Homo sapiens: one gene and its partners. The protein of the gene in region 5 purifies or fractionates together with the protein of the main gene of each other region. This does not show direct contact. Each region holds a gene or a part of one and is shown on either strand. Other genes may lie near its edges.

The links.
Region 1: the proteins of PRSS50 (region 5) and KDELR2 purify together in Homo sapiens (affinity purification with mass spectrometry; one large-scale study listed by BioGRID and IntAct). This does not show direct contact.
Region 2: the proteins of PRSS50 (region 5) and PIGS purify together in Homo sapiens (affinity purification with mass spectrometry; 3 studies listed by BioGRID and IntAct, with this or other methods). This does not show direct contact.
Region 3: the proteins of PRSS50 (region 5) and SPCS2 purify together in Homo sapiens (affinity purification with mass spectrometry; 2 studies listed by BioGRID and IntAct, with this or other methods). This does not show direct contact.
Region 4: the proteins of PRSS50 (region 5) and SLC25A40 purify together in Homo sapiens (affinity purification with mass spectrometry; one large-scale study listed by BioGRID and IntAct). This does not show direct contact.
Region 6: the proteins of PRSS50 (region 5) and FOXF1 purify together in Homo sapiens (affinity purification with mass spectrometry; 2 studies listed by BioGRID and IntAct, with this or other methods). This does not show direct contact.
Region 7: the proteins of PRSS50 (region 5) and SFXN2 purify together in Homo sapiens (affinity purification with mass spectrometry; one large-scale study listed by BioGRID and IntAct). This does not show direct contact.

Annotation. Positions count from the first base shown.
Region 1 is NC_000007.14:6,477,394-6,481,765, reverse strand, and holds part of KDELR2 (ER lumen protein-retaining receptor 2), read left to right. Parts: intron 1-4,372. UniProt on the Homo sapiens protein: Membrane receptor that binds the K-D-E-L sequence motif in the C-terminal part of endoplasmic reticulum resident proteins and maintains their localization in that compartment by participating to their vesicle-mediated recycling back from the Golgi.
Region 2 is NC_000017.11:28,557,356-28,561,727, reverse strand, and holds part of PIGS (GPI-anchor transamidase component PIGS), read left to right. Parts: intron 1-98; coding exon 99-306; intron 307-1,536; coding exon 1,537-1,679; intron 1,680-3,137; coding exon 3,138-3,252; intron 3,253-4,372. UniProt on the Homo sapiens protein: Component of the glycosylphosphatidylinositol-anchor (GPI-anchor) transamidase (GPI-T) complex that catalyzes the formation of the linkage between a proprotein and a GPI-anchor and participates in GPI anchored protein biosynthesis.
Region 3 is NC_000011.10:74,962,273-74,966,644, reverse strand, and holds part of SPCS2 (signal peptidase complex subunit 2), read right to left. Parts: intron 1,612-4,372; coding exon 1,528-1,611; intron 883-1,527; coding exon 722-882; intron 1-721. UniProt on the Homo sapiens protein: Component of the signal peptidase complex (SPC) which catalyzes the cleavage of N-terminal signal sequences from nascent proteins as they are translocated into the lumen of the endoplasmic reticulum.
Region 4 is NC_000007.14:87,832,397-87,835,915, reverse strand, and holds the end of SLC25A40 (mitochondrial glutathione transporter SLC25A40), read left to right. Parts: 3' UTR 1-2,348; downstream 2,349-3,519. UniProt on the Homo sapiens protein: Probable mitochondrial transporter required for glutathione import into mitochondria. Glutathione, which plays key roles in oxidative metabolism, is produced exclusively in the cytosol and is imported in many organelles.
Region 5 is NC_000003.12:46,711,137-46,715,261, reverse strand, and holds the end of PRSS50 (probable threonine protease PRSS50 precursor), read left to right. Parts: intron 1-760; coding exon 761-1,044; intron 1,045-2,194; coding exon 2,195-2,361; intron 2,362-2,779; coding exon 2,780-3,016; 3' UTR 3,017-3,145; downstream 3,146-4,125. UniProt on the Homo sapiens protein: May be involved in proteolysis through its threonine endopeptidase activity.
Region 6 is NC_000016.10:86,508,831-86,513,672, forward strand, and holds the start of FOXF1 (forkhead box protein F1), read left to right. Parts: upstream 1-1,696; 5' UTR 1,697-1,739; coding exon 1,740-2,718; intron 2,719-4,094; coding exon 4,095-4,255; 3' UTR 4,256-4,842. UniProt on the Homo sapiens protein: Probable transcription activator for a number of lung-specific genes.
Region 7 is NC_000010.11:102,734,264-102,738,635, reverse strand, and holds part of SFXN2 (sideroflexin-2), read right to left. Parts: intron 2,775-4,372; coding exon 2,727-2,774; intron 974-2,726; coding exon 874-973; 3' UTR 1-873. UniProt on the Homo sapiens protein: Mitochondrial amino-acid transporter that mediates transport of serine into mitochondria. Involved in mitochondrial iron homeostasis by regulating heme biosynthesis.

The DNA of each region.
Region 1 (4,372 bases), on a different chromosome or scaffold from region 5:
TGTTAGTTTTTTTGTTTGTTTGTTTGTTTGTTTGTTTAAAACAGTGGGACCGATGTCTCACTCTGTCCCCCAGGCTGGAGTGCAATGGCTGTGTCACGGCTCACTACAGCCCCAAACTCCTGGGCTCAAGCGATCCTCCCTCCTCAGCCTCCTGAGTTGCTGGGTACAGGTGTGAGCCACAGTGCCCGGCGATGTTACTTTTAATCTTTAGTTTTGCTTCAAAATCTTTGTGTGAGTCTCTTCATTTTCTTCCATATGTTTTTCAGAATCCCCTCCTCTGGCAAATCATTAAGCCTTGAAGTGTGCTGTCTCCTAAACTTTTATCCAAACTAAGATATTTGGGAGAATTTAGTGCAACTTCAGAATAATGATTTTTTTTTCTTTCTTTTTTTTTTTTTTTGAGATGAACTTTTGATCTTGTGTCCCAGGCTGGAGCGCAATGGTGTGATCTCGGCTCACTGCAACCTCTGCCTCCCGGGTTCAAGCGATTCTCCTCAGCCTCCTGATTAGCTGGGACTACAGGCGCTTGCCACCACGCTCGGCTAATTTTTGTATTTTTAGTAGAGACAGAGTTTCACCATGTTGGCCAGGCTGGTCTCGGTCTCCTGACCTCATGATCCGCCCGCTTCGGCCTCACAAAGTGCTGGGATTACAGGCGTAAGCCACTGCGCCTGGCCGTTTGTTTTTTACTATTCACTGTTTTCATTTGAGAGATTCAGGAGCATATAAGGAAAATATGAAATACTTCAGCTAAAATGCTAACGAAGGAAGTGAAATAGATGAGTTAACTTCGTGTGTGTGTGTTTGCCAAGTATTCCCGGGACATTATTAAATTGTTCTTGTTCTCAGACTTAGGATGATTTCTGTCCTGGTTTGTGTGTTTTCCTGATTTTAAGTAAATCACCCAGATCATTTATTCAGAATTAAATGCTAACTTTGACAAGCTGCTTTATTTTTCCATACTAAATTATAAAAGTTGTTTAGAGTCTTTTGAAAGAGTAAGAATTTGATATGAGTTTCTCAAATGACTGGAATAGGAGAAACGTGCATCCAGATTGTGTTTCTCATTTTGAAAATACTCATACCAAGGTTCATTTTTAGGATTTTAGCACTGATTTTGAAAATGCTGTTTTAGTCTCGGAACCATGGTGCTTTTTACCCCATAAGGATCAGGGATGAGGCTGACTCGTGTGGAAGCTGGAGATTCTGTGTTCCTCATAGGCAGATTCCAGAACAGCTGCCTTTAAGGACCGTTTTAAAGTGGGGGCAGTGAGTTGATCATGTTTGAGGCTGCATTCTCTTGTGGCTGTATCTGCTGTTGTCATTACAGAAGGGTGTCAACATGGAATGTGAGTTTCTCCTATTCTGAATTATCATTGCAGCTCGATCCACGGTATGCTCAAGTTGTCACTTTATTTTTGTCCTAAACACTGACCTACATAACCTCGGAAGAACAAGCGGTGGTTTTAGATGAAGGGCTTCCTATTCAAATTTTCCTGTAGGCCAATGGTTATTAGTGCTGTATCTACTGTAGTGCTGTGTCTATTAGTAGTGTGTATTACTGTAGCTAGTTATCAGTAGTGTGTATCTACTGTAGCTAGAGGAGTCTTTCTGAGATCCACGACCCCGGGCCTTCCCCCTCTAGTCTGTCTCCTTCCCTCCTTCCCCTGTTGCTTAGATTGTTGTTAGCTGTTATGTAGGTTGTAAACTTTTCATCCTACCAAACCCCATACTGGATCTTATGGTGTCCATACATTTCAGATATGGGACAGTTGATATTTTTGGAGTAATATAGTGGGTAAGATGTGGAGTACTCCAAGAAGCTTTTGCTTCACATATGCAGCTCCCTCTGTAGCTGTTTGGCCTGTGCTCTTTTGAGTGCCAGTCTCTGAGTAATCATTACTCTCATTTATTGACCACCCACTATGTGCAAGGCACTGGCACACAATTCAGAGCAGCAGCTTGTAGCTATTAAAAGTTTTTGTTCTTGGCTGGGCGTGGTGGCTCACGCCTGTAATCCTAGGACTTTGGGAGGCCAAGGCGGGCGGATCTTGAGGGCAGGAGATCCAGACCATCCTGGCTAACACGGTGAAACCCCATCTCTATTAAAAATACAAAAAAATTAGCCGGGCATGGTGGCGGGCGGCTGTAGTCCCAGCTACTTGGGAGGCTGAGGCAGGAGAATGGCATGAACCCGAGAGGTGGAGCTTGCAGCGAGCCGAGACTGTGCACTGCACTCCAACCTGGGTGACAGAGGGAGACTCCGTCTCAAAAAATCAAACAAACAAACAAAAAAAAAGTTTTTGTTCTTGGCCGGTCTTAGTGGCTCATGCCTGTAATTCCAGCACTTTAGGAGGCCAAGGTGGGTGGATCACTTGAGCACAGGAGTTCAAAACCAGCTTGGGCAGCATGGTGAAACCCTGTCTCTACCAAAAATACAAAAGTTAGCCAGCCGTGGTGGTGCGCTGTGGTCCCAGCTACTCAGAAGGCTGAGTGGGGAGGATTACTGGAGCCCAGGAAGTCGAGGTTGCAGCGAGCCGTGATCACACCATTGCACTTCAGCTTGGGTGACAGAGTGAGACTGTCTCAAAAACAAAAGACAAACAAAAGAGAGAAAAGTTTCTATTCTCAAGAAAGCTGCAATGTAGTTGAAATGATAGGAAAATGTACAAAAGATGGCCGAGCACGGTGGCTTACACCTGTAATTCCAGCACTTTGGGAGGCCGAGGTAGGTGGATCACCTGAGTCAGGAGTTCAAGACCAGCTTGGCCAATATGGTGAAACCCATCTCTACTAAAATTACAAAAAAGTTACCCGGGCGTGGTGGCAGGCACCTGTAGTCCCAGCCACTAGGGAGGCTGAGGCAGGAGAATTGCTTGAACCCAGGAGGCAGAGGTTGCAGTGAGCCGAGATCGCACCACTGCACTCCAGCCTGGGCGACAAGAATGAAACTCTTGTCTCAAAAAAATAAAAATAAAAAATAAATATTAAACTTTGCTGATGGACATAGAAGATGACCTGCATGTATGTTCATACTACGGTCCTGGAGAGCACCCAGGAAGGCTGGTGAGGAAGCAAGATGACATCTCTCCAAATTGATTTCTTAATTCAGAATAGTATCAAAGCTAAAGACAATAAACTGAGTGAAATAATCTGTAATATACCTAAGTGACAAAAGGTTAATATCTATAATAAAGTACTCCTACAAATAAAAACCCAGCTGAAAAATGGGCAAAGTTGGCAATTCACTGAAGAATAACGAAAGACCAATGAAGCATGAAAGGATGCTTAGTCTTGCTAGGAGTTAGGAATTTGAATATGAAAATAGCAGTGCGGCCAGGTGTGGTGGCAGCGCTTTGGGAGGTCAAAGCTAAAGGATCACTTGAGGCCAGGAGCTTGAGACCAGCCTGGGCAACATAGTGAAACCCTGTCTCTACAAAAAAAATGAAAAATTAGCTGGGCGTGGTGGCGTGCACCTGTGTCTTAGCTACTCAGGTGGCTAAGGAGGGAGAATCGCTTAAGCCCCAGGCTGCAGCGAGCTGTGATCATGCCATTATACCCTGGGTTGGGCAACTGAGTGAGGTTCTGTCTCAAAAAAAAAACCGGGGGGCGGGCAAGCAAAGAAAAAAGAACAGCAGTACATACCACTGGGTAGGAAAATGTTGGCAAGGATGTGAAGAAAGGGTCTTTGCATTTCGTGTTAGTAGATACGTAAATTGGCATAGCCTTTCTAGGAGAAATTTGACAATATCAAATTTTAAAATGTTCATGTCTTATTTTTGGTTTATGTGTTTTAATTTGCATTATTTGGGGTTACGGATTAAAATTTTTTAATTGATACATTATGATTGGATCTATTTATGGGGTACAGTTTGATGTTTCAATACATGTGTATGTTGTATAGTCTAATCTGGGTAGTTATTTCCGTCACCTCATGTGTTTATCATTTCTTCATTCGAAAACTTCTAACTATTTTGTAATATATAATACCTCATTGGGAAGATTGCTTGAGCCTAGGAGGTCAAGGCTGGAAGCTATGATTGCACCAGTCTACTCCAGCCTGGGCTACAGAGAGAGACCCCATCTCGAAAACAAAACAGAAAACAAAAGACATTTAACCTGGCCCAGTAGGATAAGACAAGAATGATGTTGTTTAATGACTGATTTCCATTTAACAAGTTGTACTCCTTAATATAGATGTTTGGTGTATTTGGTAAGGGGATATCAGTTTCAGAAACATTTACAAAAGTGAGTATTCTGGGAGATCTTATTACCTGGTAACCTTAGCATGCTTTGATCTCAAAGTGGAGAGAAGCCGACTAGGAGCTGCTCTGGTTTAATAGCAGGTATTCTACTCCCAACCCCTCCAGGA
Region 2 (4,372 bases), on a different chromosome or scaffold from region 5:
CATTGGCAAAGGGGCAGATTCGGAACAGTAGGAGCCAGGGTGCTTTTTGGCTTTCTTTTCTGAGCCATGGGCATTCTGTCTCTTGCTCACCCCCACAGGACATGATGAGCTACATTGGGCCCAAGAGGACAGCAGTGGTGCGGGGGATAATGCACCGGGAGGCCTTTAACATCATTGGCCGCCGCATAGTCCAGGTGGCCCAGGCCATGTCTTTGACTGAGGATGTGCTTGCTGCTGCTCTGGCTGACCACCTTCCAGAGGACAAGTGGAGCGCTGAGAAGAGGCGGCCTCTCAAGTCCAGCTTGGGTAGGGCACCAGGCTCTGCCACATGAAGGGAGAGGAAATGAATTACATGGGGCAGGAGGGAAATCTGCATGCCAACTTCTTTCTCCTTTCTTCTCTAGTCTCAATTTTTTTCTTATTTATTTTATGTTATTATTATTATTATTATTTTTTTTAGTTATTTATTTTGAGACGGAGTCTCACTCTGTTGCCTGGGCTGAGTGCAGTGGCACTATCTCGGCTCACTGCAAGCTCCGCCTCCCGGGTTCACGCCATTCTCCTGCCTCAGCCTCCCAAGTAGCTGGGACCACAGGTGCCCGCCACCACTCCTGGCTAATTTTTTTGTATTTTTAGTAGAGACGGGGTTTCACTGTGTTAGCCAGGATGGTCTCGATCTCCTGACCTCGTGATCTGCCCGCCTCGGCTTCCCAAAGTGCTGGGATTACAAGTGTGAGCCACCACACCTGGCCTATTTATTTTATTTTATTTTTTGAGACAGAGTCTTGCTCTGTTGCCCAGACTGGAGTGCAGTGGCGTGATCTTGGCTCACCACAACCTCTGCTTCCCACGTTCAAGTGATTCTCACTCCTCAGTTTCCTGAGTAGGATTACAGGTGCATGCCACCATGTCTGGCTAATTCTTGTATTTTTATTTTTATTTTATTTTTTTTTGAGACGGAGCCTCCTGTCGTCCAGGCTGGAGTGCAGTGACGTGATCTTGTCTCACTGCAACCTCCGCATCCCAGGTTCAAGCGATTCCCCTGCCCCAGCCTCCTGAATAGTTGGGATTACAGGCGCCCACCACCATGCCTAGCTAATTTTTGTATTTTTAGTAGAGACGGGGTTTCACCATGTTGACCAGGCTGGTCTTGAAATCCCAACCTCAAATGATCTGCCTGCCTCGGCCTCCCAAAGTGCTGGGATTACAGCGTGAGCCACCACACCCGGCCGATATTTGTATTTTCAGTAGAGATGGGGTTTCTCCATGATGGCCAGGCTGGTCTTGAAGTGCTGGCCTCAAGTGATCCGTCTGCCTCAGTCTCCCAAAGTGCTGGGATTACAGACATGAGCCACAGCGCCCGGCAGCTTTTTCTTACTCAGTGTTCCTCATCCCAGTTTTGTCCTCCTTTTGGTTCCATGATGGAAAGCAGCCCCATTCCAGAGGAGAAACAAGTTCAGCTCAGCTGGGAGTACAGGCTGCCCCTCTTCTTTGATCCACAAGAGCCTCTGACTTCCCTGACTCCTGTTTCTGTAGGCTATGAGATCACCTTCAGTTTACTCAACCCAGACCCCAAGTCCCATGATGTCTACTGGGACATTGAGGGGGCTGTCCGGCGCTATGTGCAACCTTTCCTGAATGCCCTCGGTGCCGCTGGCAACTTCTCTGTGGACTCTCAGGTGAGACCGGGAGCAAGTTGAGGAGTCCTTTTCAATGTCTATACATATTTACAAGTGCAGTCTGTTCCTCCATCTCTTAGAGCTTGCTGATTTGCTAGGAATTTCCTGTGTGTATATGTATGTGAGTGTCATAAGGGTGGGTACTGGGGGTGCGTGTGTGCCCTTGTCTGTGTCCATCCATCCATTGAGGGCAGATTCTGGTGTCTTTACTTCCTTGGCATCCTATTGAGAGAGTTTGTCAGTGCTTGTTAACAAACCACCTTCCTATAGCTCCCTCTAGACCTGTACTCACCAATTGTGCTTAGATGTTAATGCCATGACCCATCTTTTTTTTTTTTTTTTTTTTTTTGAGACAGAGTCTTGTTCTATTACCAGGCTGGAGTGCAGTGGTGTGATCCCAGCTCACTGCAACCTCCGCCTCCCAGGTTCAAGCGATTCTCCTGACTCAGCCTCCTGAGTAGCTGGGATTACAGGTGCGTGCCACCATGCCCAGCTGATTTTTGTATTTTAGTAGAGACGGGTTTTCACCACATTGGCCAGGATGGTCTTGATCTTTGCCCAGCTGATTTTTGTATTTTAGTAGAGATGGGGTTTCACCACGTTGGCCAGGATGGTCTCGATCTTTTGACCTCGTGATCCACCTGCCTTGGCCTCCCAAAGTGCTGGGATTACAGGTGTGAGTGATGGAGCCCAGCAGAGCCATTCTTAAGGAATTTAGTTTTTAGAAAAATGCTTCCTGAAATTTGTTATTGTAGTAACAATAAAGATGTGAAGGGCCAGGTGCGGCGGCTCACGCCTGTAATCCCAGCACTTTGGGAGGCTGAGGCAGGCGGATCACGAGGTTAGGAGATCAAGACCATCCTGGCCAACATGGTGAAACCCCATCTCTACAAAGATAAAAATTAGCTGGGCATGGTGGCGCGTACCTTTAGTCCCAGCTACTCGGGAGGCTGAGGCAGGAGAATTGCTTGAACCCGGGAGGTGGAGTTTGCAGTGAGCCAAGATTGTGCCACTGCACTCCAGCCTGGCAACAGAGTGAGACTCCATCTCAAAAAAAAAAGATGTGAAGAATGTAGCTTTCTGTATCACGCTGTCTCCTTGTAGGGAAAACACGTGGGAGAAATTTTTATCAGGTCTTCCTAGTGGGAGTAATTGCTTCTGAATAACTGGCTTGATTTGATCTTGTAGACACTGAATTATGCTGTTCTTTGTTTCTCTCTTTGTGTAGACTGTTAGGAAACCTGGTAAAATACGTGATTTTTAAAGCACGTATTTAGTTTATTCAGTTTACCCTTGGCTTTGCTATTTTCTTCTGCAATTATTTTCTCTCAGCCCTGATTTTGTCTCTTATATGTTGCCTTGTCCTGATTGTGTCTTTTTTAAGGCACCTCAAATCTTTTTTGGGAGAAAGTAGAATATAAATCTAAACAAAGTAACCACTCCCTGTTTGCTCTACAGATTCTTTACTATGCAATGTTGGGGGTGAATCCCCGCTTTGACTCAGCTTCCTCCAGCTACTATTTGGACATGCACAGCCTCCCCCATGTCATCAACCCAGTGGAGTCCCGGCTGGGTGAGCACCTAAGGATGAGGGTCTTTCTTTTCTGCCAGGCTAGGGAGGGACCCTGACGGCTCAGCTGGGTAGGGGACAGGAGTTGGAGGTGGATTATATACAGTGATGGTTCCCAGGTTGGGTTGGTCCGAGGAGACTGTGGAGATTGAGGCTCCTTTTTTTCTTTTTTTGAGACAAGGCCTTGCTCTGTTGCCCAGTCTAAAGTGCAGTGGCACAGTCATAGCTCACTGCAGCCTCCAACTCCTGGACTCAAGTGGTCTTCCCACCTCAGCCTCTCGAGTAGCTAGAACTATAGGTATGTGCCACTACACTTGGCTAATTTTCAAAATTTTTTTTAGAGACAGGATCTCATTATGTTGCCCATGCTGGTCTTGAACTCCCCTCAAGTGATCTTCCCACCCCAGCCCCCTAAAATGCTGGGATTATAGGCGTGAGCCACTATGCCTGAGCCCTAGGTTCCTTTTTCATGATGCTCTGTTGATATCTCCATCTTCACACCTATCATATCCAAAAGCATTTATTAAACGTGATTCCTAGCACTTTTTACAAATGAATGACTAGGCTGGGTCTATCTCCCTAAAAGCCATCTAGGAGAGAGGCTGTCACACACATAGGAAAGACAACAGCAAAAGTACTTGAGGGCAGAATTTGAATTGACAGTTCTGCTGATTGAGGTTGAATAACCTTGAAGCTAGTATTAGAGTTTTTCATTTTTCGGGTGGAAACTAGGAAGAGGAGGTGTGACTAAGAACTGTAACACAGGCAAACCAAAGTGAGTATATCTAATTGTGGAATCTCAGATACCAGAGGCAGGCTAGTGTGGCCCAAGGATTGTGAGGGGGTGGCATGTGAGGCCTTAGAAAATTCCTCCGTTCATTTATTCATTCAGCAAACATTGACTGAGGGACTACCTTATGACAGTGCTGAGTAGAGAAAAGAAGGGCATTTCAGGCAAAGGGAACTGTGAGCTTAGATGCAGACAAGTGAGAGAGCTTAGGCATTCAGGAAGCTCAGAGTAGTTTAGTGTGGCTGAAATGTGAGTGAGTGACCAAAGATGAAGCCGGTTAGGCAGGCAGGAGCCAGGTCATAAAGGACCATGTTAAGGAGTTTGAACTTTAAC
Region 3 (4,372 bases), on a different chromosome or scaffold from region 5:
CTGGGTAGGCAACGACCATGATCTTACATTTATCATAAAAAAGAGGGGAAAGGAAATGATTATGTATCAAATACAATATAAAATCTCTCATTTAATCTTTATGATAATTCTGAATGCTACCCATATTTATAAATGAGTGGTATTCAAATCATCTCAAAAATAAGTAAATTTTCATTAGCACAAGATCACAGATACCTTGGATTTCAAACCCATATTCTCTAGCTCCAGAATAAGTTCTTAATTCCACTGTAATACAAGCCACACTTGTATCTCATGCTCAGTACTTTCCAGTTCAGCTCCTCAGCTTCAAGTAAACTTAATACAGATCTGAGTCTCCAAAATCAGATCCTTTCCTAATATCCTAGAATGAGTGGCTTGAAGCAGCCACGTCTAACGGGAAAAGTTCTGGGCTAGAAATGAGAAGAGCTGGGTTCACTATTACTATGTGTTTTGCTATTAAGTGCTCATATTAGGACAATAACCTCTACATTAATAACAAAAATGAATTACGATAAAATAACCATACAAAACATAAAATATCAGTGACAGTTACTATATAAACTGATAGATATTTACTATATAAACATCACAGCTCAAAATGTTGAATTCTAACATTAGCAAGCCCTAATATGAAAGTCCGTTTTGTTTTTTGTAGGGAGAAATATCAGCAGATTTAAAAAAATAGTCACTAGAAAACAACCTGAGCATAAATAAAGGATATGATATGACACACAAAGCCAAAACGGGTTTGGACTCTGGAAAGGGGTGCATATAATCCCAAATCAAAGCCACTATGGCAAAGAAACAGGAGATTGTACAGATGGTGAGGCGACCATCAATTAGACCAAAATTCTCCACATATTTGTATTTTTCCAGAAGTACCTGGTGAGAAAAACAAGGAATCAAGCTAATAGGAATACTTCCTCCCCAGTATGTGCTTTTATTCTTGATTTCCATGATAAAAGAATCATATGAATTACCAAGTAGTTCCCTCCAGTTGGGATTTTACCACACCAAACAAGTAAAACTCAAGCCTTCTATAAAGAACCAAGAGAAAAAGTTCATCAATCCCTCATATAAAAAACTTTAAACTCCTCAACTTTTCCCACAGCTAAAATGTTTTACTTTTACAAATGGAGAGATGATTTATCATGAATGAATGTCCTATCTTCTCTCACCCTTCTGTGCTCTAGGCTAATTAATCTCAAAAACAAAAAATTACCAGCTTTCTTGAGATAGCCAACATCTATATTTCTTTTTTTTTTAATTTTATTATTATTATACTTTAAGTTTTAGGGTACATGTGCACAACGTGCAGGTTTGTTACATATGTATACATGTGCCATGTTGGTGATATTTCAACACACTTCCTCTGACTTTTTCTGTGAGAAATTTTAGAAACTGCTTTCTGACTTAATTTCTAACACTGAAAACTAAGGTCACTCCAAGTTACAAAAGGAAAAGATTTCCCAGGAGAGATGGCCATCAGCTGTATAGATACTAACCAACCCCTCCTCAAGAAAGTACCTTTTTGGCAGAATCATCCAAAGAGTTTTTCACAGCTGATCCATCCCACTTGTCAATTTTTACAGGCTTATCATCTATCTTCCACTGTAAAACAAACAAAAAAGTTGTGCATCAAGAAACCTGGCCTCTTACTGAAAGTAAAATGAACCATTTTTTAAGAGCATCCCTCATGCACATATAATATTTACTCTTTGTCTTCTGATGTTGCAGAACTAAAAGACAAAACAGGCTATTCTGGGCACACTCCTATGGGGTAGCCCTGCAAGAAGCAGTTAAAAACAAACAAAAAAGACCAAACAATTAAAAATCAGGTTGAAAGAGACTAGGTCACTAGAGTCAGGTGGTACTCATGTGATGCTGATGTTGCCAGTCTCCATGCAGAGAATATAAAAACAACCCCAGAACCAGAAAACGTATATGGGCTGCACAGACTGTAAGTGTAAACTTGTATATCCCACCTTCATTTTACCGAAATGTGAGTACAGAAAATTACTCTATTTGTTCATTCTTTCTTTCTGTGACCACAAAACTCAGAAAATACAGATACATGAATTTACAGATACTAACAAAATGGGGAGGATCTCCTTTAATATCACTTTGTCAGCTAACAACTTTTATTATTTTACCAGCATGTCTTAACTTTAAGATAGCAATTCCAGGATAGCCTGTTGGAAACAACACTACATTTTAAATTACAAACCAAGTCCCAGACTCAGTCCCAACACGAGTTGAGTGGACAAACTCTACTTCTATTTCCCTTATCTATAGAGGTTTAGAAAGTTTCCCAAACACTGCTATTCAGAAGCAAATAATTCTCTCACTGCTCATGTAGAAGTTCAAAATGTTACAGCACCTACGAATGCCAACTTAGCACCCTGAATTCAACTTCCCACTTCCAGGAATGTTTCTATAACTGAATACATGTGAAATGAAATACAAGGCTACTCACTGCAGCATTGTCTGTAATAGTGAAAAGCTGGAGGTAACTCGAGTGCTCATTTACAAGGGGATTGGTTAAACAAACTACGGTACATCCAGATATCTTATCAGGGTAGAGAAATACGGGGAGGAGTAAGATTACTCTATGTGTGCCTTTAAAATTTTTTAACCATGTGAATATATTACATAGTAAAAAATTTTCTCAAATGCAAGTATTTAAGTAAATATAGCTTAAGAGGAACAGGGTGCTACAAATAATCTGACAAACCTGTTTTTTGTAGACCATTAATGGCCAACTCTTAATTTTTTAGATCAAGTGAACAAATATTGTATTCCATAAAAATTACAAACCAGCAAGCAATCCAACGTTCATCTGGATTTAGAATGGATTATTTTACTGAAAGACAGAGAATGTCATATTTATCTTTCGGATTGAGCACAAGTACAAAGATAATGCCTATAAGAAATAAAGAGATGGCAGTGGTGAGTACCTGCCATCCCAGATACTTGGGAGGCTGAGGTGGCAGAACAGCTTGAGCCCAGGAGCTCGAGTCCAGCCTGGGCAATATAGTGAGAGCTTGTCTCTGAAAATAAATAAATAAATAAATAAACAAACAAACAAACAAACAAACAATAAAAAATAAAATAAGAGATGGGATAAAAATAATTGTAAAGATTTTAAACAACTACAGAAATACAATTCATCAACCTTGTTTTTTTTTTAACTGTGATTCTATATATTATTACACAAAAGAGAAAACCTGTTCTGTGAAGTTTGTTAGAAGAAATAACATGAGCTAAAAATAGCCATACTTAAAGTGATTAAAAGTCAATCAAGTTTTTTTTCCCCCTTGGTGCCCTGTAAAAGCAAAAATTTTTCTTTGAGAAAATTACTCATGGCAGCATACTGCACTATTGACTGCCATAGACTGCCAGCCTACAAATCAAACACGACATCTAATTTTAAAGATACAAACTGAACCAAAAAGAAATTAGCAGGTTTTCTAGCTAGATAGCTCATTTACACTGTCAAGTAAATCCCTCTTTGAAGACATGCAAAAGAACCAACTTGTAGAGCCAAATCCACCATAGCATTTGAATTATTTGTGAAATAAAGTCAGAATAAAGTCATTTAAAAATTATGGGTCATTCAAAAACAGGAAAATCATATTCTCAGACACCTAGCCACACTTCACTGCCTGCATTGCATCACAGAAAAGAAACTTGCCTTTAAAAGTCAGAGGATAATGTCTTAACCAATTTGGGAGAATAAAATGCAGAAGCAGCCATTACAATGTATTGAAATAGCCTCAGCTCTAACTTCACTGCCTGGTACCTAGAAGCAATCTTCAGTAAGTGGAAAAGAAACATTTCCAGTGAATTACATGAAATCACAAGAAAGGTTATAATTTGACTTTACGGCAACACAGCCCATTTCGAAGCAAGTAATGTCTCTACTACAGTATGGAGAACCATCTGGAAGAAGGGGAGTTGCTATTAGGTGCTTCTTTTTCTGATTATTACTTCTCATCATGCTCAAAAACTGCTCATCAACTAAAATGTATGCTGCTCCTCATGTTCTCTCTACTACTAATTCGGGTATTTTAAAAGCTATCTTTTTTTTTTTTTTGCCTCAATTTTGTCTTCCTCAACACTAATTGCAAATTGCTTTCCTTTTGTAATAATAAAAAGAGAAAGCAAAAATTAGTTTCTTTTATGTGGGACCTCACAGGATAAATTAAAAAGAAGGGCAGTGTGCAGAAATAAGTGAACCTGGGTCCAAGACTGCCATCTTTAGCAAGGCTTGTTTGCAAGGTTGGCCCTTGGCTGGTATCTGACAAGCTGGCTGATAAAACAAATCCCTACACTGATATAAATACATTCCCTCAGTGATAAGAATGGCTCA
Region 4 (3,519 bases), on a different chromosome or scaffold from region 5:
AACTTTTTGAATTGTGTGCTGAATGATGTACATAGTCTAGAAGAAAAAAGCCCAAGTCTTGTGCACATTTAAATCGTGTACATAAGTATTTCCGTATTTCAGTAAAGTAGATAAAGCACTCGTTAAATAGCATTGTTTACATCGACCAAATATTGCCTGTTTCCTTTAATTCAAATGCATTAGGTTCCCGCCTCCCTCTCCTTCCCCGCCATGTTGCTGTTTTAAGGCTTCATATGTATTAACATTTCTCTGATCAAAATTGTGGCTGTTTTCCTTATGAACCATAATATAATCATTTGTGTGATGTACATTGTGCCATTTTTGATGACTAAATGTCTATATTTCTGCCATTCCTGTAAGAGAGGGAGTTTTTTACTGATAGTAGCAAATGTTCACTTCAGTCAAACTTGGGTGTTCAGTGGTAAACCATATAGTATTTAGACTGGTAAAAATAGTTTGCACACAGGAATAGCCTCTGATTTTTAGCTCTCTTGTAATCCAAGTATCATTGTTCATGGAATTCTCTAGGTCATTTTTATTGTGTTGTTCTAACAAGACAGATTATTGCTACAACAATAGTTACAAGATATTTCTAAAATATCCTTTGATTTTTACTCTAAGTATGGTAGAGTAAGAGGCTAAACAAGAAGCTGTTTCCTTGAAGACATTGCTTTCAGTCACCATACATGTCTAAATAATTTAGCTTATCATTCATTCTATGTAGGAATGAGATAAGAAAGGATATGATGGCAGGAAAAGAAATGCTATTCATTTTTTATACTTTAGTTTTATTTTCTTAGGATCTATATCCTATATATATATATTTTTTAAAGCACTAATTTATTGCAGTCTTTATTTTAGAAAAATGTGAAGCATTTTTTTCTCCCCTAAAATGAATATATTTAGATGACAAGTCTTTAGTGCTGGTAGAGGAACTAATTGATTTTGTACTATAGTAGGAAAGTGTTTATATGTTTCACCAGAAATAAAATATGTAGGGTTTGTATGTAATCTTCTGTGTTTATCCTATGTTGATTTACCTTAAATTTGCAACATACATATCCACATAAATATTCATGACTTTCTTATATTTCATTAAAATGTTTTATGGCTTCTTAAAATCATCACTGTGCTTCTAAATATTTTTACGTAAAATCATTGTATAATGCTATACTGTGATATACATGAAAGTTTATCTTGAACAGTGCTCTTTAACAATATTAAATTTAAATTTATCTTGGTTTTGCTATGCTTATGGGTAATTCATAGAAAACAGAAAAAATACTGTTCCCAAAAGGCAGTTATATATTTCAGTTTAATATCACCTATAAGTATGAGAAAGGTTTCCATGTCTCCTACCCCTCACTGCACTTAGGAAAATTCTTATTTATGAATAAAGTAAGATAAGTAAATCTAATTGCCTAGTCGTTTTTTTAACACATATACATGCAATGTATCTGGATGAATAGAAGGCTGAATTGAAGCTTTCTTTATATTTAAGAGGTAAAAAGAAATATTAATACTTTTAAAATATACTAACAACCAAAAAGTGTTCAGAATTTTGCTATAATAATAATTTGTATTAAAATAGTACCTAGAAAAATTCAGTCTATGGAATAGGTAAAATTTTAAAATTTTAATTTGCTCTCAGAGTTCTGTCTGATAAAATAATTGAACTATAATTGGCATGATGAATATTCCCAGGTTTTACTTCAGTATATAAATTTAACTCTCAGCCACATGGGCTTTCCAGACTTTTCAATACATATGATGTTGCAGGAATTGCAATATTTGCAAACATGTGCCACAACAGTGTTCTTGGTGATGTTTCTAAAACAGTTTTTATTCTATTAATGTTAAATTTTCTAACATAAACATTTAATTGATTAATGTAAAATTTTAGGAAGGAACATCTTTAATTTTCAATATGAGATGGTTGCAACCTTTAAAGTAGTACATATTTGATTTTTTTTAAAAGGCAATATTTTTTTTTCTAGGAAAACTATTCATTATGGTTATTTAACTGCATATGTTTTTTAAATTTTTCCCTCTTGGAACAACATGTACTGGGGCCTATCAAAGGGTGGAGGGTGGGAGGAGGGAGAGGAACAGGAAAAATAACTAATGGGTACTAGGCTTAATACCTGGGTGATGAAATAATCTGTATAATAAATCCCCATGACACAAAAGTTTACCTGTGTAACAAACCTGCATATGTACCCCTAAACTTAAATTCTTCCCTCTTTTTGTCTTGGGCACAAGTTTTTGGGATATGGAAAAGTTTATTGTATCCCTTTTGAATTTTCTTCTAAGATGAACTTTTTAAATAAAAGATATTACTGCTTTTATATTTAATCTGTCAACATTTATTGGGACATTTTATGTAGTAGGCAGTATATAAAAAGCACTGGAGATGATAAGATATTTCAGATATTGTTACTGGCCACAGGAGGTTTCAGAGCTATGATTGAGTGATTGATAGAAACATACAAAGGGAGTCATGGGAAATATGGGGAGTTGTTCACTCAGCCTGGGGGCAGAGAAGGGGAGTGGTCAGGAAACCTGAGTTGGACTGACAGACAGGCAATCCAATAAGTAAACATGCAGGGAAGTGGGAGTCTCAATAAGGCAATAGAATTTAGTCCATATGGCTTGAACAAAGTGTATACATGGGAAAGTGTAAACATGGAAATGTAATCTAAGGCCTTGTGCGCTTAAGGAGGAACAAGAAGGCTGTGAGAAACCTAGGAAAAACTTTTTGGCAAAGTTGTAACAGTTAGTTAGACTTGGGTTTTGGAAGATACCCAGCAGTATGGAAAATGGGGCTTATGATAAGGTGATCTATGTTAAAATCTAAAAGTTTTGGTTTGTATTAAAATATGCTTTTTAAATGTACCATAATGAAAAAGAGGTAATTTTAGCTTCCCTTTCCTATCAATCAGTTAAAATGACAAATGCTAAAACTAAATCGAAGCTGCTTTGCTTTCAGAAGAGCAGAATGAACAACAGTCTTGTGACACTTAAGTGGTAATCCAATATGTTAGTTTAGTTTAGCAAAATCTGCACATTTCATCTAATGATAGGAACTTTAACAAAGCAGTTTTCTAAGTTGTAAATTTGGGACACATTGATAACCACTTAAAACTGTATGTAAATCTAATGATTTAACAACTAACTTATGATCTACTTTTTCTGCCACTCATAATTAGTAGTAGCTTGCATTTGGCATTTATCTCTTTAGAACTTCTTTTATATATGATTTTATTTAATGCTTACATCATCCTGATGCCATCTCTTAGGTGCCAAGAAGATAGTGATGATTCTTACAGGTGAGAAAACAAACATGACTATTTTATAATTAAATCAGTAACACTGCCAGAACCACTACTAAACTGTACTGATTGATTGAATAGATGTTGTGTATTCTAAAGCATATCATGTTACTTTTAAAAAATAGGATATTTAACTTGATGTGAGTTGAAATAAGGATTTCTCCCATTCCATTTTCATGTTAGTATT
Region 5 (4,125 bases):
TCCTCTCCACGGGAAGAAGCTCCTAGTTCTTTCATTTCACCCCCTTTGCACCCACATCCTTGTTCCTCCCTTCAATCAACCGTCTCTGACACTTCTTTGAGCAAGGCCCTGGCCTGGACACTGGGGGCAGAGGAGGGATGGATCATTCCTTCCAGCTTGTTGGGGGAGACAGAAAGGAAGATAGATGCTCACAAGGGTGCCTGGTTGGTGTGGGGACAAAAGAGGGAGTGTTCTGATGTTTTGGGGCCAGGAGTGCTGGCTGTGAGAGCTGACAAGTGAAATGTGTTCCAGGCCTAAGGGCCAACATACAGACTCCAAGGGGTACCCCGGGGTGCGCAGCTAGATAGCCAGGCCATGGCACATTCCATGGAGCTGGAAGGAGTAGAATTGCCTCCTCCAGGGCACAGCATGGGGTGAAAGAGTCCATGCTATGGACTGAGAGTAGAGTTTGGAACCAGAGAAAACTGGGTCCGCATCCCTTCCACTGCCTCCTAGCTATGCAGCCCTGAGTGGTTCATTGGGCTTCTCTGAGCCTCAGTTTCCCCCTCCATAAAATGAAGGGTCTTGAGGACTGGACCACACAGTGAGTGTGCAGGGCCCTGTTCATGTCTGTGGTGAGGAGTAGGCTCAGGGGGCTTGAAGCGGGTGGGTGGCCCCTCCTGGATCTTCTGGGAGGGCAGCAGAGTGGGGGAAGGCCCAGGCTGGAGGCTGGGGCAGGGGGCCTGGAGCTGATCATGGCCTCCCCTCACGGCCCCCCTAGGCGTGATGTTATCTACTCAGTGAGGGTGGGGAGTCCGTGGATTGACCAGATGACGCAGACCGCCTCCGATGTCCCGGTGCTCCAGGTCATCATGCATAGCAGGTACCGGGCCCAGCGGTTCTGGTCCTGGGTGGGCCAGGCCAACGACATCGGCCTCCTCAAGCTCAAGCAGGAACTCAAGTACAGCAATTACGTGCGGCCCATCTGCCTGCCTGGCACGGACTATGTGTTGAAGGACCATTCCCGCTGCACTGTGACGGGCTGGGGACTTTCCAAGGCTGACGGTGAGTCAAAGCCTCTGCAGACCAGGGCGGGTGCTGTGAGAAAGGACGTGGGTGCAGGCCAGGGTGCCACCACAGATGGATGTTTCTGAGGCACCTTCCCCAGGGAGCCTGCCGCTCCCGGGACCTTCCTGCCAGGCTCTCATCTCTGAGGTCTCCTTCCCCTTGAGGATCTCGTGGGGAACACCTCACTGCTGCTCCAGCCTCAGGGGACCCTGATTGCCTTTGAATCCTGAGTCAGGCCAGGGCATGTAAACAGAACTTCCTTGAAGGCAGAGAGGCACAGAGTAATACCTCACAGTCCACACCCACTGCCCAGGCATCGGCAGCTTGCAGCAGAGCACCTGAGGTCGGGGGAGCAGTCTTCTGTGTTGTAAAATGCTGCCCAGAAGGCCCACATGGCTGGCTAGGGGCCGTCTGCAGCTGGAGCTCATGGTTTCCCCTCCCCTCAGTGGGCCTCAACTCCTGGTCGTCCCAATTCAGGAGCAAGGCCCAGAGAGCAGGTGTGTTCTCTCAGGAACATCCAGGGGACCCTAGAACTGTCTACTTCCTTCAGGGGGTCCCCAGCCCATAAGAGAGATGCCCTTCCCTGTGGCCTCAAGGAACCAACTTACTCTCAAAACAGCTCAAGGGGGCTTCAGCCCATGTGGGAGGACCTGGGAGTGACTTTGTCATCCCTGCTGTGGCCTGTCTCCTGTCTCCCAGGAGCTTAGGCCAGGGACAGGGACACACTACTCAGGGAGGCAGAAGGAAGAAGCAGTGCCTGGCCTCCATGGAGGGGTCTGGGAAGGCTCAGCAGGGAAGAGGCCTGTGGGAGAAGGGATGCTTGAAGAGAAGGAAGGCTTGGCAGGCCCTCAGGAGGGAAGGAGTGGCAAAAGCCAAGAGGCCGAGTGTGGTGGAGGTGGTGTCAAGGGCCCCAGTGGCCTGGGCACTGCAGGAAGCGAGAGCAGGCCCGGCAAGGCTGGGTTGGGGGTACTCTGCTCCGGGGGCTCTGTGTTGAGGGCCCTAGATGGGTATGGGCTAGAACGAGGGCAGAGGTGTGTGGCTAAAGCAGAAAAGGTGGGACGTGGGGAACAGTGGAGAGAGGACGAGTGAGGCTGGCGGTAGTGGGCAGCGGTGAGTGGCTGCGCCTAAATGGGGCCCTGTCCCACAGGCATGTGGCCTCAGTTCCGGACCATTCAGGAGAAGGAAGTCATCATCCTGAACAACAAAGAGTGTGACAATTTCTACCACAACTTCACCAAAATCCCCACTCTGGTTCAGATCATCAAGTCCCAGATGATGTGTGCGGAGGACACCCACAGGGAGAAGTTCTGCTATGTGAGCGGCCTCTCCTCGCTCACTCCCCTTCAGGGGCACCTGGGGGAGAGGCATCTGGGGAGGGAGAGCGGAACGGTGGAGGTTGGGTAGGGGAAGGGAAGGGGGTGGGCAGGACTCTGGGATATGGGGATGGAGGATGTCGGGGGAGACTGGGAGGAAACAGATGGGGGCTGGGAATGGGGATGGCTGTTGGAGGTGAGAGGAGTGGGGGGTCCGTGGGGAGATGGAGGGTGGGTGTTAAGAGGTGGGGGATGAAACCCTTTGAGGAAGAGCTCCTGGGTCTGGAGCACTTCTCACCTATGTTGGCACTGGGGGACTGTGGAGGTGTGGTGTGAGGACATCCCGCCTGTCCTGGAGCTGGGTCGTCTCTGGCCTTGCCTGGCCTCCCTGACCCTTACTCCCCCAACCCTTCCCACAGGAGCTAACTGGAGAGCCCTTGGTCTGCTCCATGGAGGGCACGTGGTACCTGGTGGGATTGGTGAGCTGGGGTGCAGGCTGCCAGAAGAGCGAGGCCCCACCCATCTACCTACAGGTCTCCTCCTACCAACACTGGATCTGGGACTGCCTCAACGGGCAGGCCCTGGCCCTGCCAGCCCCATCCAGGACCCTGCTCCTGGCACTCCCACTGCCCCTCAGCCTCCTTGCTGCCCTCTGACTCTGTGTGCCCTCCCTCACTTGTGGGCCCCCCTTGCCTCCGTGCCCAGGTTGCTGTGGGTGCAGCTGTCACAGCCCTGAGAGTCAGGGTGGAGATGAGGTGCTCAATTAAACATTACTGTTTTCCATGCCTCCTTCTTCCCCGGCCTCAGAGGCCCCACGTTTCCTGGGCCTGCTCTGTTGGGAGTCCACAGGTGAACCAGATGAGGGTGAAGTGGGGAACTCCAGGCAGTTTACACTGAAAATTGCAGAGCCTCCAGGATCTCCCCCATTCAAAGGTTCGGGGTGGCTCCCGCAGAAGGTGGAGGGGGTGTGAAGGGGTGATATTAGGGTCAGATGATCGAGGGGCCTGGAACATACCGCCCAGGCTGAAGCTGGGGCTGCCAGGACCCAGCTGGGGTGCAGCTGTCTGGGCTGGAAAGTGGGTGCTCTTTCTGTGATAACTGTGGGAGTCGGGCTTTCCTTGACTTTGGCTGATTTCTGGCAAGAGGCTAGAACACAGCATTTCATTGCCCCAAAGAGCCATAGTGAACTTTGACCCTCTGTCTCTGTCTCCTGTCTGGAGACAGTGACAGACACCCACTGGAGTCAGATGTTATTCCAACCACCAGCAGCCAGGCCTGCCCATAAAAGGCTAGTGGTGGCCCCATGTCAGGGGAAGGGCAGGTGGAGCCTAGGCCTGGACTTCCCCAGTCTTCAGCAACTGCTGCTCTGTGTGACCCTGAGTGGCCCCTACCCCTCTGGACTTCTGCTGCCTGGCCACATGGGAAAATTCTGCATAAATAGAATGGCCTTTTTCACCCCTATGTATGAGAAGCCCATGGGTTGGACCCCAAGGGCAGAGGTCGGTCAACTGCCTCCATCTGGTGTCAGAGTCCTCAGCTTCCATGGCGGGGCCTTTGGCCATGGCTCTGCCCCTCACTGCTCCTAAGACCCCATGTCATGCGCTTTCCTCATCAGCCTGGATCACTCTCCTCCCTGTACAGTGATGATCCAGGTCCAGGTCAGGAGCCAGGTTTGACTCTTCTGTGTCCCCAGCACTGGGCACAGACCATCACAGGTCTATTGAAAATCATGAATGCAGCCTTGTGAACTCAGCACCCAGAGAGC
Region 6 (4,842 bases), on a different chromosome or scaffold from region 5:
TGCCGGCGCTCCCAGCCCGCGCTGTCTGCTCTCAGGAACCTGGCCTGGCGCGCAGTGTCAGAGGCCCCGCGGCGGCGGCAGGCCGAGCCCACAGGGGCATTAGGCCAACTCCCCCCTCCCGCCCTGCGCACGCGGAATTCTCTATTATTATTATTAAAGAATCCCCCAGAACTTGTTTACGTTAAACCCTGTAAACTTCCTGCCAGGGCCTTTGCCATCTCTCGGGAAATCGGAACCTGCGCTTTGAAAACGGGGCCGCGGGGCCAAATAGGCGGGTTTTCAGTGTGTGTTGGGGGTGGGGGAGGGCAACTGAACTACGTGTGAGTTCAGATCCGAGCGTGGCGTGTGTACGCGTGAGTGGGAGTGAGTGCGAACTTAAGCTCCTGTGGGCCTTAAGCTTCCGTGTCAACGAGTGCATTAGTGGGTGCGCACATGCCTGAGCGCCCTCTGCATATGAGTGTGCACACACGCATGGGTGTGTTTACACGTCTGTTTGCGTAATTTACCGGGTTTGCATGTGCATCAAGACATGTATGTGTGTGCTAATGTGTGGACAAGAGCGCGAGGGTGTGCGCGCACGGGTGAGTGACTGAGCACGCCGCTTATTCAGGGGCCTGTGCGGTCTGGGTCGCCTCTGGGCCAGCGGGTTCTCACTCGCCCCCGTCAGGCCCGCGGCGCCCGAGACAAAGCGGCCGCGACTCGTGCTGCGCTTTCGTTTTCCGCCTGCGCTCTGCCCCGGCGGCTGCCCGCCCGCTCGCAAGCTGCTGGGCGAGTCCGAAAAATCCCGGGAGCGGCGCAGTTCTTCCCGGGGCGGGGAGAGTGGGTAGGCGGTCCCTCGCGGGAACTTAGCCGGCCGGCCGCGAGGACCGGAGTCGAGCCGGCTGTGCCTGCGATGGTCACGACCGGGAGGCCGCCGCACTTGCGATTTGCTACAGGGCTGTGCGCGTCGGGGAAGGCCCCGGCCCAGGGAGCGTTTCCCGCCGCGCCGCCCGGGCGGGGAAGGCGGGGTCCAGCGCGCACCGGGGCTGAACCGCGGGCGGAGGGCGCATTAACACTTGCTCGCCAGGTTGGTGGAGGCGGGGCGGATTCTGCTGGCGGCCGCGGGGCGGCGAGAGTGGGGGCTCTTTAAGCGCCCACCAACGCGGGGGCCCGAGGGGGGCAGGGACGGAGGGAGGGAACTCCGGGAGGGTCTTAGGCCGACCCGCGAGACGCAGCCGAGCGGAGATGGAGTGAAGGCTGCCTCGCCCGGAATCTCGGAGCCGAGCGCCGCGGGCGGCGGGGACTCAGGGCTGCTCCCGGCTGGGGCGCACGGCCGTAAGACCTGGAGGTGGTGCCTCCCCCCAAAAAATACCGGCGGGGGTAGCTTCCTCACGGCCTTCGCCCGGGCTGCCCTCGGCCTCAGCTCGGCTCCTTTCCTTGTGGGAGGGCGAGAAAGAAAGAGGGAGGAGAGAGGTGGGGGAGGCGGGAGTTGGAGAGAGAGGGGCTCTGAGCCAACCGCCGGCGGATCCAGCAGCTCCTCGGGGAGGGCGGGCGGGAGCGCGGGGGCGGGCGCGCCGCGGCTCGCTCGGGAGAAGTGGCCGCCGATGACGGCAGAGGTGCAGCCAGCCCCGCGCGCGCAGCCCCCTCCCCTTCGCCCTCCTCCCCCCCGTCGTCCTCTTCCTCCTCCTCCTCCTCCTCCTCCCGGCCCGTCCGCGGCGCAGAGCAGCGGCGGCAGCGGCGGCGGCGGCAGCAGCCACCCGATGTCTTCGGCGCCCGAGAAGCAGCAGCCACCGCACGGCGGCGGCGGCGGCGGCGGCGGGGGAGGCGGCGCGGCCATGGACCCCGCGTCGTCCGGCCCGTCCAAGGCCAAGAAGACCAACGCCGGCATCCGGCGCCCGGAGAAGCCGCCCTATTCCTACATCGCGCTCATCGTCATGGCCATCCAGAGTTCACCCACCAAGCGCCTGACGCTGAGCGAGATCTACCAGTTCCTGCAGAGCCGCTTCCCCTTCTTCCGGGGCTCCTACCAGGGCTGGAAGAACTCCGTGCGCCACAACCTCTCGCTCAACGAGTGCTTCATCAAGCTACCCAAGGGCCTTGGGCGGCCCGGCAAGGGCCACTACTGGACCATCGACCCGGCCAGCGAGTTCATGTTCGAGGAGGGCTCCTTTCGGCGGCGGCCGCGCGGCTTCCGAAGGAAATGCCAGGCGCTCAAGCCCATGTACAGCATGATGAACGGGCTCGGCTTCAACCACCTCCCGGACACCTACGGCTTCCAGGGCTCGGCCGGCGGCCTCTCGTGCCCGCCCAACAGCCTGGCGCTGGAGGGCGGCCTGGGCATGATGAACGGCCACTTGCCGGGCAACGTGGACGGCATGGCCCTGCCCAGCCACTCGGTGCCCCACCTGCCTTCCAACGGCGGCCACTCGTACATGGGCGGCTGCGGCGGCGCGGCGGCCGGCGAGTACCCGCACCACGACAGCTCGGTGCCCGCCTCCCCGCTGCTGCCCACCGGCGCCGGTGGGGTCATGGAGCCGCACGCCGTCTACTCGGGCTCGGCGGCGGCCTGGCCGCCCTCGGCGTCCGCGGCGCTCAACAGCGGCGCCTCTTATATCAAGCAGCAGCCCCTGTCCCCCTGTAACCCCGCGGCCAACCCCCTGTCCGGCAGCCTCTCCACGCACTCCCTGGAGCAGCCGTATCTGCACCAGAACAGCCACAACGCCCCAGCCGAGCTGCAAGGTGAGTGGGGAGGCCGAGGGCGCCCTGGTCCCCGGGAAGTCGAGTCTGAGTGGCAGCGGGACCCAGCTGGGGCGAGCCCCTCCACTTCTGTGGTCGGAACCCCAAGGCTGAGGGGAGGCACCAGCTCCCCAAGGTGTCTCTTGGCCCCACCTCTCCCCCTTCGAAGAGTGACTACCGCTCTTGACCCTAGTTTGGGCCAATCTGTTTCTCTTTCTGTTCGAACTCCAGCTGCCAGCTGCTCCAGGCCTGACCAGGTAGGCTGGTCCTGAGCCAGATGTCCCAGACCCCAGTGCCCTAAGTCCTTTTGTGTCCCTTAAGTCCCCTCACAGCTTGGAAAGATCCTGGGATGGACCCAAGGCTCCCAGCGCTGGCCAGATGGCTGTCCCTCCCTGGTGGTGGCCCTCAGGCTGCCTGGAGGGCTGCCTCTGCCTGGGGCTGGGCGGAACGGAAGGTGTTAGGCCCAAAGCCGCTGGGCCAGCGCTCAGAGGCTCAGCCCCGGCCTTTCAGGGGACCAGACCTGGCAGACCCACAGCTGAGTCCAGGGGCATTTTGTGGTGACTGAGGCAGGAGGGTGCCGTGGCCAGGCCCCGGAGGGTCAGAGCTGCAGACCGGGCCATGGGGGCTCCTTGTTTTTTAGGATCCAAGTTTTCAGGTCCCCACACCCCCAACACCCCTGATACCCCAATACCCCGAACATGCAGAAGCATCTGCCAAGGGAGATGCAGCAGCCTCGCCTCCTGATTCTGCCCCAGGCCCCCCGCAGCCTGCAGGCCCAGCTCTGGAAAAAGCTGGAGTGAGCTTGCCAGGGCCAGTCCAGGGTCAGCTGTCAGCAGCCCCAGGAGGCAGGAGCCAGGCCTGGAGGCCTTAGGCAGCCTCTCTGCGGGGGACTCCCCGGCTCCGGGGCCTGTTCTCTGGAGAAGCTTCTTCTCACCCCTGCTGCTGGCCCGGCGCTGGCCCTGCACTGGCCTCTCCTTCAACCCCGCCGGCAGTCGTAGCCTCTGAGGTTGGGGGTGGTGGTGGCTGCCCTGGCGGTGACGGCCATGGGCGTTAGGGGCCCTCCACTTGGTCTCCCTCACCACTTCCCCTATGGCTCTGGAAGCCCTGGGCCCCTGCACGGTGTCCGAGGCTGGACAGGCACGCAGCAGGCAGGCAGGCAGGCAGGCAGGCAGGCCGTGGCAAGTGTTCTGGAGTCTTTTCCTTGGGTGCGCAGCTGGAAGGCCGGGACTCGGGGAGGAGAGCGGGGAGGCGGCCGTGCTCTGGAGCCAGGCTGACAGGCCCTGTGCGCCCCACGGGAGCACTGCTCCTCTGCCTGAACTCTGAGCCACCGTGGCTAACTCTTCTGCTCCCCCAACCCCTCCTGTCGCCTCGCCTTGCAGGCATCCCGCGGTATCACTCGCAGTCGCCCAGCATGTGTGACCGAAAGGAGTTTGTCTTCTCTTTCAACGCCATGGCGTCCTCTTCCATGCACTCGGCCGGCGGGGGCTCCTACTACCACCAGCAGGTCACCTACCAAGACATCAAGCCTTGCGTGATGTGAGGCTGCCGCCGCAGGCCCTCCTGGTGCAGGCAGGCGGGTCACAGGGACCCTGGACCGGCACAAGAAACTGCTTTCTTCTCGAGGTATAACCGTCGGCAGAAGAAAAGGGTTCCACCTCTCCCCAACCGGAGTTTTTGGCAAGGAGTCCCCAATGCAAAGACACAGCGCTGCGGTTGGCACCTCCTTCCTCACTCCTTCAAAATTGTTAAGAAATGTTAGTGGTGGGTCTGATCTGACTGCAGCCATCGGTAAATAAAAGTTTTTGATCCTGTTGAACCCGCCTGAGACGGTGCTGTGCAGGGGAAAGCCCCCGCACCCACACAGGAATTCTGCTGAGGTCCCCCCTCCTTCCGGCCAATGGCAGAAGTGGGGGAAAATTTTTAGAAGAAAAGCAAACATGTGAGACCAATCATTATCAAATACTTTTATTTTTTGGTTGAGTATTTATCTTTTTATTTTTTATTTTTTTTTTGAAAGAATGTCTTGGAATGCGCAAGTCTCCCTTTAGAGCCGTCTTTTGCAGGGAGCGGGAAGTGACAAGAGCTCAGATCTCCCTCCCGATCTCCCTCCCCACCTCCGAAGTCTCC
Region 7 (4,372 bases), on a different chromosome or scaffold from region 5:
TAATTTCAAGGTTAGCAGCACTCCCAAAGAAGCTGTCCGGGCTGGGTGTGGTGGCTCATGCCTGTAATCCCAGCAATTTCAGAGGCTGAGGCGGGCGGATCACCTGAGGTCAGGAGTTCGAGACCAGTCTGGCCAGCATGGTGAAACCCCGTCTCCACTAAAATACAAAAATTAGCCAGGCGTGGTGGCAGGTGCCCTGTAATCCCAGCTACTTGAGAGGCTGAGGCAGGAGAATCGCTTGAATCCAGGAGGCAGAGTTTGCAGTGAGCCGAGATCGCGCCACTGCATTCCAGCCTGGGCGACAGAGCAAGACTCCATCTTGAAAAAAAAAAAAAAGAAGCTGCCTGACCAGGGGGCAACGAGGAGGAGGATGTGGAAGGGTGATGAGCCCCAAGGGGACAGAGTCCTTTCCCCCTTCTTTTTCCTGAGTTCAGCTAGAATTACATGGGTAAAAGTTTCCATTGCTTGGGAGAGGAGGAAGCGAAGAAGAAAGAGGTATAGAAGCTTCCTTTTGATCCAAGGTCTTTTCCTCAACCCTGGCTGGAACCAGAATCCTAAAGGTTTCCTAACTTTTCCAAATGATTTGCTTGGATGTCTCCTCCCTGAGAGGGCCTCAGCTTCTGGTCTCCAGGGGACAGGGGTTGAGGAAGCAGCTAGAAGACATTGGCCTTTGCTACCCTTTTTCACTTTTTTCCCCTGAGGTCCAATCAACCAGTACCAGGGTGTAAGTATGAGGCATTCATTGTCCCACCCCCCAATCTACCCTGGCCTTCAGGCCTTGTTGGCAAAGGGGAAGGAGGACACAAGTGTGCACGTAGCTAAGGAGGAGCTGGTGAATATGGGAATAGACTGGTCCTTGCTGAAGTGGGGCATTTAGAGACCCTTATTGAAGTAGACATAAGGCTCAAGTTCTCCATACTTGGCCTTGATAGTGTCTTGGAGCTTCGGTTCCAGATAGGAAACTGGCAATTCACTGAAAAGAGAGAAGTGGATTATGAGCATGCCACCAGGAACAAGCAGTAAGTTACCCTCAGATGAATATCACCTCCAAGAAGCCCTCCTGATTTTTCCATCTAGGATTATTATTGGCCTCTGTATACCACAATGTTGCTTTACCATTACGCAGGCCTGACTTCATTCTCCTTGGGCTATGGTTCTTCGTTTCAACTTCCATCTTCTCCACAAGATTACAAACACAGTGCTTGGGACACAAGAGATGTCTAGCAGATGACCATGGAAGTAGTATTGAACTAGAGTACTGAGGAAGGGGAGACTGGAATTGTCTGGGTATATATTCAAGCTACACTTGTCTCCTGGGGTCAGTCACCCTCCACCCCCTAGTCTGATGTATCCCTTCCCTTTTCCATCATCCCTTCTCCCTGCTTCCTCCTTCTTGGACACACAAAGGAAATAGAGGGGTTTCGGTTGTCAGCCCTCTGCCTGTCCCTTTATTTATTTATTTATTTATTTACTTATTTATTGAGATGGAGTTTCACTCTTGTTGCCCAGGCTGGAGTGCAGTGGTGCAATCTCGGCTCACCGCAACCTCCACTTCCCAGGTTCAAGCAATTCTCCTGCTTCAGCTTCCCAAGTAGCTGGGATTACAGGCATGCACCACCACACCCAGATAATTTTGTATTTTTAGTAGAGACGGGGTTTCTCCATGTTGGTCAGGCTGGTCTTGAACTCTCGACCTCAGGTGATCTGCCCACCTCGGCCTCCCAAAGTGCTGGGGTTACAGGCGTGAGCCACCACGACCAGCCCCCTTATTTAATGTTAACGACCAACGGGGAACGGTGGCTCACGCCTGTAATCCCAATACTTTGGGAGGCTGAGGCGGGCAGATCACCTGAGGTCAGGATTTCAAGACCAACCATGGCCAACATGGTGAAACCCCATCTCTACTAAAAATACAAAATGAGGCCAGGCGCGGTGGCTCACGCCTGTAGTGCCAGCACTTTGGGAGGCTGAGGCGGGCGGATCACAAGGTGAGGAGATTGAGACCATCCTGGCCAACATGGTGAAACCCCGTCTCTACTAAAAATACAAAAATTAGCTGTGCGTGGTGGCACGTGCCTATAATCCCAGCTACTCGTGAGGCTGAGGCAGGAGAATCGTTCAGGGAGTCGGAGGTTGCAGTGAGCCGAGACTGCACCTCTGCACCCCAGCCTGGCGACGGAGTGAAACTCCATCTCAAAAAAAAAAAAAAAAATGAGCTGGGCATGGTGGCAGGCACCTGTAATCCCAGCTACTCTGGAGGCTGAGGCAGGAGAATCACTTGAACTGGGAGGCGGAGGCTGTGGTGAGCCGAGATCGTGCCACTGCACTCCAGCCTAGACAACAAGAGTGAAACTCCATCTCAAAAAAAAGAAAAAAAAAAAAGTTAAAAACCAGATCCAGCCAGAGGAGAGCTTCCTAATAACCCAGCTGGCAGGAAGAGAAAGTCTGTTGTTGCTCCCCCACCTTCTCTTCAAGGCAGTGCTTGCTCCACTGGGAGGGAGCAACCTTATTCCTGTCCCTGGCTTCTCCTGCCCCTCGCAGATCTGTTTTCGTTTGTCAGAATTCACCAGGGTTAAGAGGCCCAGCCTTTAGGCTGATGGACACTTGTCCTCAGACAGGTGCTGCCCTTCCTGCCCCTTCCCTGTCTCCTTCTGGACAGCAGGCAGATCAGGGAGCGCGCTGGCAGCATGGTCAATTAAACCAAGTAAGGAATGAACAGCAGATACCATTTCTGTGGGAAAAGCCCACACGCCACTGGCACCATGAAGATGAGGCTGCAAGAAAGGAGAAACCAAAGCATCAGGGGACATCTCCCCACAGGCCCGTCCATCCCCCATCCCCAAGGGAAAGGAGCAATGCCCAGGCACCTGGCCTGCCTTCCCAGCTGGCACCATATCCTCTCCCTCCAACCCTCCTCCTGTTCCCGCAGTGCGAGGATACTCATTCTGGCAGGGGGATAAAACCAGTACCCTCCTGACCCCCATCACTCATTCCCACCCTTACTGCATTGTTCAAGCAGAGGAAGAAGACAATGAAGTAAACAGGGACTGTGAGCAGCAGGCCTAAGGAGCACAGGCACTGCTGGCATCGAGCGAAAGGAGCGACGAGGAGGGAGAGGAGAAACTTGGAGGGGGAGGAGCAACATGGAGGGGGAAGAGCGACATGGAGGGGAGGAGCATCATGGAGGGAGAGGAGGGACATGGAGGGGGAGGAGCGACATGGAGGGACAGGAGCAACTTGGAGGAACAGCATGGAGGGTGGGGAGCGACTTGGAGAGGGAAGAATGACTTGGAGGTTGAGGAGCAACTTGGATGGGGAGGAGCGACTTGAAGGGGGAGGAGTGACTTGGAGGGAAGGAACTACTTGGAGTAGGAAGAACTACTTGGACAGGGAGGAGCAACATGGAGAGGGAGAAGGACATGGAGGGGAGGAGCAACATGGAGAGGGAGGAAGGACACAGAGGGGAGGAGGGATGAGGAGGGAGAGGAGCAACTTGGAGGGGGAGGATTGACTTGTATCGGGAGGAGTGACCAGGATGGGGAGGGGCACTTTGGAGTGGGGGAGGGGCACTATGGAGGGGGAGGAGTGAGTCTGTGGATTCTGAGACCTGCTTCTTTATTGGTTGAACACCTGGGCTGTCAGAGCACAGTGAAAGGCAGTTTCTCCAGCTTCACTGTGCATATAACTTCAGGAGCTTATTAAAATGCCAGGTGCCAACTGAGGGGGTCTGGGGAAGGACTTCAGAGTCTTTACTTCTAACAAGTTATCAGAGGATGCCAACGATGCTGGCATGGACCAGGGTTTGGGAGGCAAGGTCTTACAGGACGCGGGACTCTGACAGACCTGGGTTGGTATCCCAGTTTTACCACTTACTAGCTGTGCCATCTTGGACAAGTTACCTCAGAGACACAGAGGGAGGACAACCTACTTTTTAGGGCTACTGCAGACCACTTTGCAGTGCCTACTTTGCAGGGTTACTGTGAGGATTCAATGAGATATGTATGTAAAGCACCCAGCCCATGGTAACTACTCAATTAGCAGAAGTTGGTATAGCATAATGTTAGACTGTTGATCAAATCTCAGCTCCAGCAGTTACCAGCTATATACCCTTGGGCAAGTTTCTTACTCTGTCTAAGTCTCAGTTTCTTCATTTGTAAAAGGAGATGATAATAATATGTAGATTTCTAAGGCTGGGAGAATTAAGTGAAATTATAGATATGAAACACTGGGTTCAGTGGGGACACAGAGAAAATATACAGTCAGTGTTAGCTGTTAGTGATGCTGTCATTAGTCTCGTGGCCCTGAAATGCATGGTGAACGCTAGGACATCTCCAGTTAATGGCAGATACCTAAGAACCCTGACGTGACTGGT